2 separate regions of the Homo sapiens genome follow, and region 2 is linked to region 1. The links come from fine-mapping of genetic effects on gene expression. Tissue or cell type: whole blood. Region 1 holds a variant in brackets; the other region holds the start of a gene. All regions are shown on one strand. Distances are from middle to middle.

Evidence for each region. PIP is the estimated chance that this variant, and not a neighbour inherited with it, causes the effect.
Region 2: IL1R1 starts here. The variant in region 1 is fine-mapped to the expression of IL1R1 in whole blood (TOPMed, PIP above 0.99).

What each region holds. Positions count from the first base shown.
Region 1 is chr2:102,027,103-102,031,262 of GRCh38, reverse strand. It overlaps IL1R2 (interleukin 1 receptor type 2), which reads right to left. Exons shown (of 9, transcript NM_004633.4): 9 at 2,719-3,037. The coding sequence ends at 2,871. Among named protein-coding and RNA genes, the nearest start is that of IL1R2, 37 kb to the right of the region's middle. The variant C/T (reference allele first, on the strand shown) is at 1,943.
Region 2 is chr2:102,140,422-102,144,421 of GRCh38, reverse strand. It overlaps IL1R1 (interleukin 1 receptor type 1), which reads right to left and starts at 1,676. Exons shown (of 12, transcript NM_000877.4): 1 at 1,402-1,676. RefSeq lists enhancers at 459-753, 519-813.

The sequences.
Region 1 (4,160 bases):
TGCAACGTCCTCACCGAATCCTCCTTCTCAAACCTCACTCTCCTCTCCTTTCCGGTTAAAATCTAATAAGGTGTTCAAAGGCCTCTGCCGGCCCCTCCGTACTTCTCCCTCCCTGAATGCTTAGAAAACAGAAGAAGGAAAGAGGAGATGATAACAGGAAAATAGAAAAGCGAGGGTCAAAAGTTAACTGCTCAAAACCGCCTTCACCTAAACCAGGCATTGGCAAACTTTTCCTGTAAACGACCAAATAGTAAATATTCTAGGTTTTGCCATCTCAACTACTCAACTCTATCTTCAAAGAGCAAAAGTGGCCAAAGACAGTCTGCAAACAAACAGGCAAGGCTGTTTCCTAATACTCTTAATCCACAGAAACAGAGGGCAGGCTGCATTTGGCCCACAGGCTGTGGTTTGTCAACACGTAGTCCAAGTACAACAATTTTTATTTCTGTCTATTCCTCCTATGTTTTTGATTATTAAACAGTTACTATAGTTGAAATAGAAAAATAGGAAAAATGGAAATATAAAATATAGCTAAATAGCTAAGTTAATTTGGACTAAGTGATTATCCCCATTTTTCAGATGAGAAAATTGATGTACTTTGAGATTAAAGGATTTGCCCAAGATCACAGAGGCACCATGTGGCAGTGCTTGAACTTGAACTCACAAAGTCTGCCTTCAAAGTCCAAGTTTTTAAGTTTTCTCCTTGTCTAGATGCAAACAAATGTCAATATTGTAACCATAAAAATTGTACAAAACAATGTATAATATTTCCTTAACACTGTAAACATTTAAGTCTTACAATTTTGATAATTTGGTCATTATAGTATTGATCATTATAATTGATAATTGCTGCATAATTTTTCATCATTGGGGTAATAAGTTTTATTAAATTATTTTATATCTCTAATGATTTTATTTTATTAAATTATTTCCTAAGCTAAATTCCCAGGAGTAGTATCACTGGGCATCTCTCAAACCTTGTTGTTATGTACTGGGGAAGAGAGTGCTGATTTGTGGCAACTGCCAATTTCTGTGGTGTAAAGACTCCACAATGGCCACAGATTTTAAGCTACCAACATGACATCACTGAACAGAGCCAAGAAGAGAGGCACATCCTGGGCTCTTGCAAGAAGATGCAAGCTGGTCCAGCACCCAACTGACTTGGCTCATGTTGCCTTTCTTCTTCCCAGCACCAAATTATAAATTGAATTAAAGTGTGAGAGTGTTTCATAAAAACTTTTAAACACTTGATAGTGTGTGAGTGCACTGGTATCTCAAATTTGCTCTAATTTACATCCCCTGGTTCTTACTGAAAGTGTCATTTTTCCATGAGTTCCTTTATGTGTGTCTCTTCTGCAATCCCCTACTCACATTTTTTCATCTGTAGGGTGATGATGCTACTATAAACTGAATGTTTGTGTCCTCCCAAAATTCATATGTTGAAACCCTAACCTCCAATACAATGGTATTAGGAGTTGTGGCCCTTGGGAGGTGATTAAGTCAGGAGGGCTGCCGTCTATTAGCCAGGAAGTGGGCCCTCACCAGACACCAAATCTGCTCGCACCTTGATCTTGGACTTCTCAACCTCCAAAACTGTGAGAAATAAATTTCTGTTGTTTACAAGCCACCCTAGTTATGGTATTTTGTTGTAGCAGCCCAAAAAGACTAAGACACATGCCTTTTCTATGACTTTGAATAACTCTACACATGATAGTTACTCATTCCTTGAACTTGTCTGACACAATTTTGTCTAAACCTTGCTTTTGTTATTTTGTTGTGCAGAAATTATAATGTAATTAAGCCTACTCACCTTTACTCTTGCAAGTCTTTTGGTAATGAACAAGAGAGAGTTCATCCCATCTTCATTTATTCTGCAAATATTCATTAAATGCCTGCTTTGAGGTACTGGAAATACAGCTGGGACCAAAATAATCTCTCTGAC[C/T]TCATGGGTCTTCCATTTGGGTGGGAAACATAAATTGAAAATCAACAAGCAAATCTATACTGGAAGGTCTGGTGGTGATAAAAGCTACAATGGTACAAAGCAGGGTGAGGGGACAGAGAGGAAGGAAGGTCCTCTCTGGGGACCTTCCCTCTGGGAAGGTCACATTTGAACAGAGACCTGAAAGGTGGAGTCACCAGCCGTGCTGATTTTCCTGCCATTGGAGTTTTTTTTTTTTTAATTGAACTCATTTATCTATCTGGATTTTATTTTTGGTATATGATATGAAAGAGGCTCTGGGTACATTTTATTCAGTTTGTCTACAATTCTTTTAATGCCCTTCCTTCTATTTTCAGACATGTTGTTATGAAGTTGGGTCTAATTCTCAGTTCACTAATACATTCCAATGTGTGTATTTTTAATTGCTATTTTTTGGATAGCCCTTTCCAAAAAAGTTCACCAATTCTTGCTGATTCTTCTGCTTTAGCACTAAATTATTCTTTTCAGTCTCAAAATGAACAACCAGCTTCCTGAAAGGCAAACTATGTCTTAACCATCACTGTATGTACAACATCTCCCATAGAGTCTAGTCAAAATAGACTCATAATATGTTTTTGTTGAATGAATGTCAAAACTCATGTAGATGTTTTCCACTCTCATGCAGGCCTAAGAGCACCTCATTCTGTTAAATAGGTCACAAGTAGCAGACAGCTACTCACACCCACTCACAGGCACATCTACTGTTGTCACTGATTTTTAGGGAAAAAAAAAACAGAATGTAAGACTTTAGTCCTTTACTACAAAGCCACTATAAATGTGGCACCTTTGGTAGACAACTGAGGCAAAGAACAGAGTCCCTCAAAAAGACACAGCCACTTCCATAAGAGAAGACGTACGGAGTTTGTGTTTGAATTATTTCATTCCATTTATTTCACTTGGGATAGGATTGAAAGTCTTGATGATGAGGCCATAGCACAGTCAGACCATCTGCTTTTCCAGTTCTGTGTTTGCACCGTCTGTGCATCCATATTCCCCCCAAAACCAAGAAGGCCAGTGAAAGTGGGGCCAGCACAATGCCCCAGGAGAACGTGGAGGAGGCTGTGGGAAGAACAGAGTCACATCAGGAGCTGAACAGTCTCTCACTGTACAAGAGGACAGGGCAATGCAGGTGTACAAGATAAGAAAGAAATTGGAGTTTGTTTTTCTTGATAAATGTGCATTGATTTTCAGAAAGCACATCCCTCACACCAACATGGAGGATATTTGAGAGTGATGTCTGTGGCATTAGAGAAACGAGCGTGATAGGGCAAAATCTGTTAGAAACATCGTAGGGTAAGTGGGCAAGTGCTGAGGGTTTAACTTTGTTCCAACAGTGGGACACTGTGCGTTTAAGATGCTGTCTGTTTATGTCACAGTTGGCCAACTGTGACAGAGCCAGGAACAATCTGCCCTTTTCTAATGAGCATGGGTGTCATGAGGATCAAAGGAAGTAGCAAAGGAAAATAAATTTTGAATAATGGAGCTGCAGGGGCCAACACGATTGCTTGGGTCCAGCTATTTTATGTTCTGCTCCTTGGCGTCTCTGTGTTATGGAAATACAGGAAGAGACTCTGAATAAAAAGTTAAAAAGCAAATGTGAGAACAGAGTGTTATCAGACACATTGTTGATGAGACTAGAATCCTGCATTTTTAAGCTATTATCTATCACAGTCTGTTTAGTCATCCAGGAATCGACATGACCTCAGCCTGTTGCTCCAGAGGATTCTCACATTTTAAAACCCCACAAAGATTAGAAATAAGTTCAGCTGTAATATTCTGGGCAGCTGTTTGAATACACCTCTCAGTCCTGGTGAAAGACTTACAGCCTGTGTTCCCTGGATCAGTCACGGCCAGCCACATGCAGGGACAAGGCTCATGTTATGGAAAATTTTAAAGGTTCCCAGCATCAGGGCCAGACAAACCACAGGTTCCTTGGGCTCACTAATCTGACCCCGAGAGGGAACATTCTGATTTTTGTGGGTAAATGTGTACAACCACCATCTCTCCCAGCCTGCTCATCTGGAAATGATCTGAAACGCCACCCTTCACATGTGTGCCCTCATTCTCAAACTTCACTGTGAAAGGAGCTTTTTGTGTCACAGGCTGCAGCCTCTCCCTAGGAATATTTGACAGGGTGGATCTGGAGTAAGTCCTGAGATCTGTGTTTGTGACCAGTGGCTCA
Region 2 (4,000 bases), 110 kb before region 1:
TGGGGGTGCTGCTCTGGGCCTGCCAAGGTCATGTGAGAATTCAGATCAAATATCCTTTCCTGAACAGCATGGAGGCCACATGAGAGTGGACGGGTGCAGGAGACGCTTCACACACAGCAGCTTGGCAGCTAGCCAGAGACTGAAAATAAATCAGAGTTCCACACCCCTGCCCCAGCAAACCCCATTCTCAAAGGCTCTACCTTTCTGTCTAGCATAAACGTTAACATCGGATATGAATACAGAATATTAAATGAAATATCAAATGAGATATCACACAATAAATTAGAAGGGATTGAGAAAGAAAACAATGCCAATAGCCGCTTGGTAAACTGGATGGCAAAAAGGACAGTGAACGTCCCCATGCCACCTCTGGCTTTCCTCAGCTCATCAATAGTCATGGAGTTCTGTTTCATACATTCAATGTCCAGAAGCCTGGCACCAAACCGCAGCGACTGAGACATCCATCACATTCCCGTGACGAATGGACCCTTGCTCCATGACCTCAAGAGCCCAAGTTCATGGTGTCCCTTGCCTCAGTTCCTAGAATGTAAAGCTAAATCACAGGAATGTGGCCATCTGAGAAGCTACCCTGCCCCAAAGATAAGGCAGTGGAGAGACAGCCCAGCAGGAGCCAGCATCTGCGTGCCTTCCCAGCGGCCTTCCTTCCTCCCGGCAGTGCAGAGGAGAAAGCCCTGGCAGGCAGGACGAGTGGGAGGGAAGACAGAGGGGGGCTGCATGCAGAGGTCTTACCCTCCTTCAGGACATCATCCTCCAACAAGTTGGTCACCTAAACTTCTGCTTCCCCCGCTGTAAAACAGGGGTGATGACAGCACCCTCCTCACAAGACTGTAGGGAGGGTAAAAGACCAGTTGCTGTCAAGGGCTTATAAACTGTAAAGTGCTGGGCATGACTGTTGTAAATAATGAGTGTCTTCTCAGCGCCTACTTGCTTGTAGCTACATTCCCTAGCACCATCCTTTATCTGGAGGGGCAACAAGTTACCCTCCCCAGTGTGGTTAAGGCCTCAGCCCTTACCTTGTTAAGGAGACTGACGGTCCTGAGCCTAACCTCTAAGAGGGACGCTCCTGAACCTGTAGAACGTAGCCGGATAGAAAACCTGAAAGCCATTCACACGGGAAGTCACACACCTACCTAGAACCCCCCTCCAGAACAACTGGCAAGTTCCTTCAAACGACCTGAACAACGTTAACTCTTGCTCCACACAAGAAACACACACACGCAGACCTCACCGCCATCCCCTTCTTACACAACACACTCTGACAACCAAGTGCAACTTAGGGAGGACGCTCACGGCGTCCTGCAGAGCGGGGGACTCGAAGGTGTCAAGGCTGTGGTCCGTCTCACCCCTACCTAGTCCCCGGATGCTCCAGCTTCCCCGTACCTGGACGGACGGCCGTGGAGGGTGATGGGATCCCAGCCCCGGGCGGAACCCGGCTCAGCTCAGAGGGGCGAGAGCCCTAGGAGCCGAGCGAGGAGTGCTTCGGTGCGCGGGCGCGCGATTGTCACATTCCTGCCGCTCCCTGGGGCGCGCGGGGCAGGCCGGCGCCCCCACCGCCCGGCCCGGCCGCTCTCCGGCTCCTCCCGGCCGGCGCCGCGCGCTCCGAGTCGGCTCCGGCCGCCGGCCACAAGCTGCGCCCGCCCTCGCGGCCGGGAACTGCCGGGCGCGGCTCTGGCTCTAGCCCCGCCGCTGCGGGGGCGGGGAACGGGCGGAGACGGCTCGGCTGGGCCAGTCCGCGGGCTGCGAGCGAGCTGGCCGGGTGTCCCAACTCTCCACCCGGAGGAGCAGGCGCGGCTGGACAGACCCCTGCGGACACCGCCCTGCCCCGGGTAGCCCGCAGGGGTCCCGCCGGTTCCAAAGCATTGGAGAGCTGCCGGGCGCTCTCGAGTCGCGGCCCGGCTCCTCCAGGGCTGCGGCGGCTCCACTAGAGTTAGTTGAGACAACTCACCTAGCCACTACGACCTGGCTCTACTACCCCCATGGAGCCTGGCTGCGACCCGCGAATTGAGTTGGCGACTCCAGGGCATCAGATCCCGAAGCAAACGCTCGCCAGAGCGACCTCTGGAGCTTGGTGCCTGGCCAGGGGCTCTCTCCGACTGGCTTTGTGCACTAATTTCTTTGTACCTCCGTTTCCTCTTCTGTGAAAAAGGGATCATAAGAGCACTCATCTCATGGAGTGGTTGAAAACAGTTTTTTAAAAAAAATGAGCTAATACATATAAAATAGTGCCAGGCCCAGAGCTGATACTACTCACGCGTTATCTGCTGGTTTCATTGTTGCTGTTACGCGCCCGGATGAAAAAAGCAATTTAAGTGTCATACTATAAAATCTTGATACCACACTTGGGGGCAGACAGGGTTTTTAAATTTTTAAACTTAAAACCCACTTATGCCCACCAGCTCACTTTGCCAATGAGAATTCACACCCAGGGGAATGGAAGGATGGCCAAGGTCATGCAGCGAACGAACGCCTGGCAGGATCACACCTTGGGCTCCTTGCAGGGAGAGGAGGGGAGGGCGCAGTGGTCGAGTCTGCAGCTCCCTCGGGCTTTCCCCCTCCACTTCGCTAGTCTTCAGCAAGTGACTGGCCCCTCCAGCTTGTTTGGAGGTCTTCATGGGCCATCCTCCAAGAAGAGTTTTAATAAATGATGATAGCTTCCTTCCTTCTAGTACACACCGCCCCTTCCTGCATCCCTTTCAGACTGGGCAGGCTCTTGTTCTCGTAACCCACCCCTGGATATGCCTCTTCAGAAACTCAAGAATTGAGGTAACCTGAGCCTCAGCTGCCCCCGGACAAATCCAGGCTGGAGGAAAAGATGAAGGAATGAGCAGCAGAAGCTCATCTGCCCTAAAAGCTGTCTTGCAACCTGGCATGATGACAATTTCTCATTCTTAAACAATCTGTTTCCAGAAGCTTTTATGGTTCCTTTTCCTCGAGAAAGCAGGCTTACATCAGAGGCCAGTGACGTAGCATTAAGAGAATTCCTTAACAATCCCAGCTCTCAATATTCCTTTATACAGCAGAAGGTCTCACAGCCTTGACTCCACTCAGAATCACCGGAGGACATGACACTCCTGTGTTCAGATCAGTCACGTCAGAGTCTCTGGGGCTGAGGCCCAAAAGGCAGTGTTTTTAAAGCTCCCAGGTAATTCCAGTGCAGCTGGGGTTGCAAGCAGTTGTTCCTCTAAGCTCCCACAGTGATGCCATTACTGTGAATCCTCCAACTGAAGGCTGCTTCAACCACGTGTCCAAATGGCAGTTCTGAAAGCTACAGCAGGTGGGCCTGGCTCCATGCTGTGGAACCAGCCCAGAAGCACTATGATGGTGAACATAAATTCGTCCTTCCATTTTCATAATGAAGGTTTTTAAGCAGTTTACAAGTAGAAAGTGAAATTGATTTGTGCAACCATGTAGAAATAAAATCCGTAATTTTTGTCTTTTTTAAGTGTTGTCCCCGTTCAGCCACTCCTACCCAGTGTCCTGCTAGACATGCAGGCCTCTAGACCCAGGTGGGACTCTCAAACACCCGCCCAACACAGAAATGGAATTGGAAGACCTCCTCTTTCTCACCTTATTACCACTGTTCTATCTGGGACCTTCAAGTCACCTTCTCCCTCACTCAGCCATCCTGACCACTTTCACTGACTTTCTCCTTCCCTTTATTTCCTTTCCTTGGATAACTGGTGTGCCTGCCTGTCTCACTCCATCCCCTGGGTAGGAGGCTTCCGTAAGGTGGAGACTGTCATCCCTGTATCCCTATCTGCTCTGGTCTCAGCACCACAAAAATGCTCTGAGCACATCAACATGCTTTAGTGTAAAGCCTACTGCTTACACTGACATTGTATGCTAGTGATGCAATCCAATGGCCCACATCTTGGACAAAAACTTACAAGAAACAGAAATAGCATTGTTAGCCTCTGGACACCTTCCGGGGTGTCTCCCTCCCACCTCTGAAATGCTTATCATTCAGGAGACTTAACTG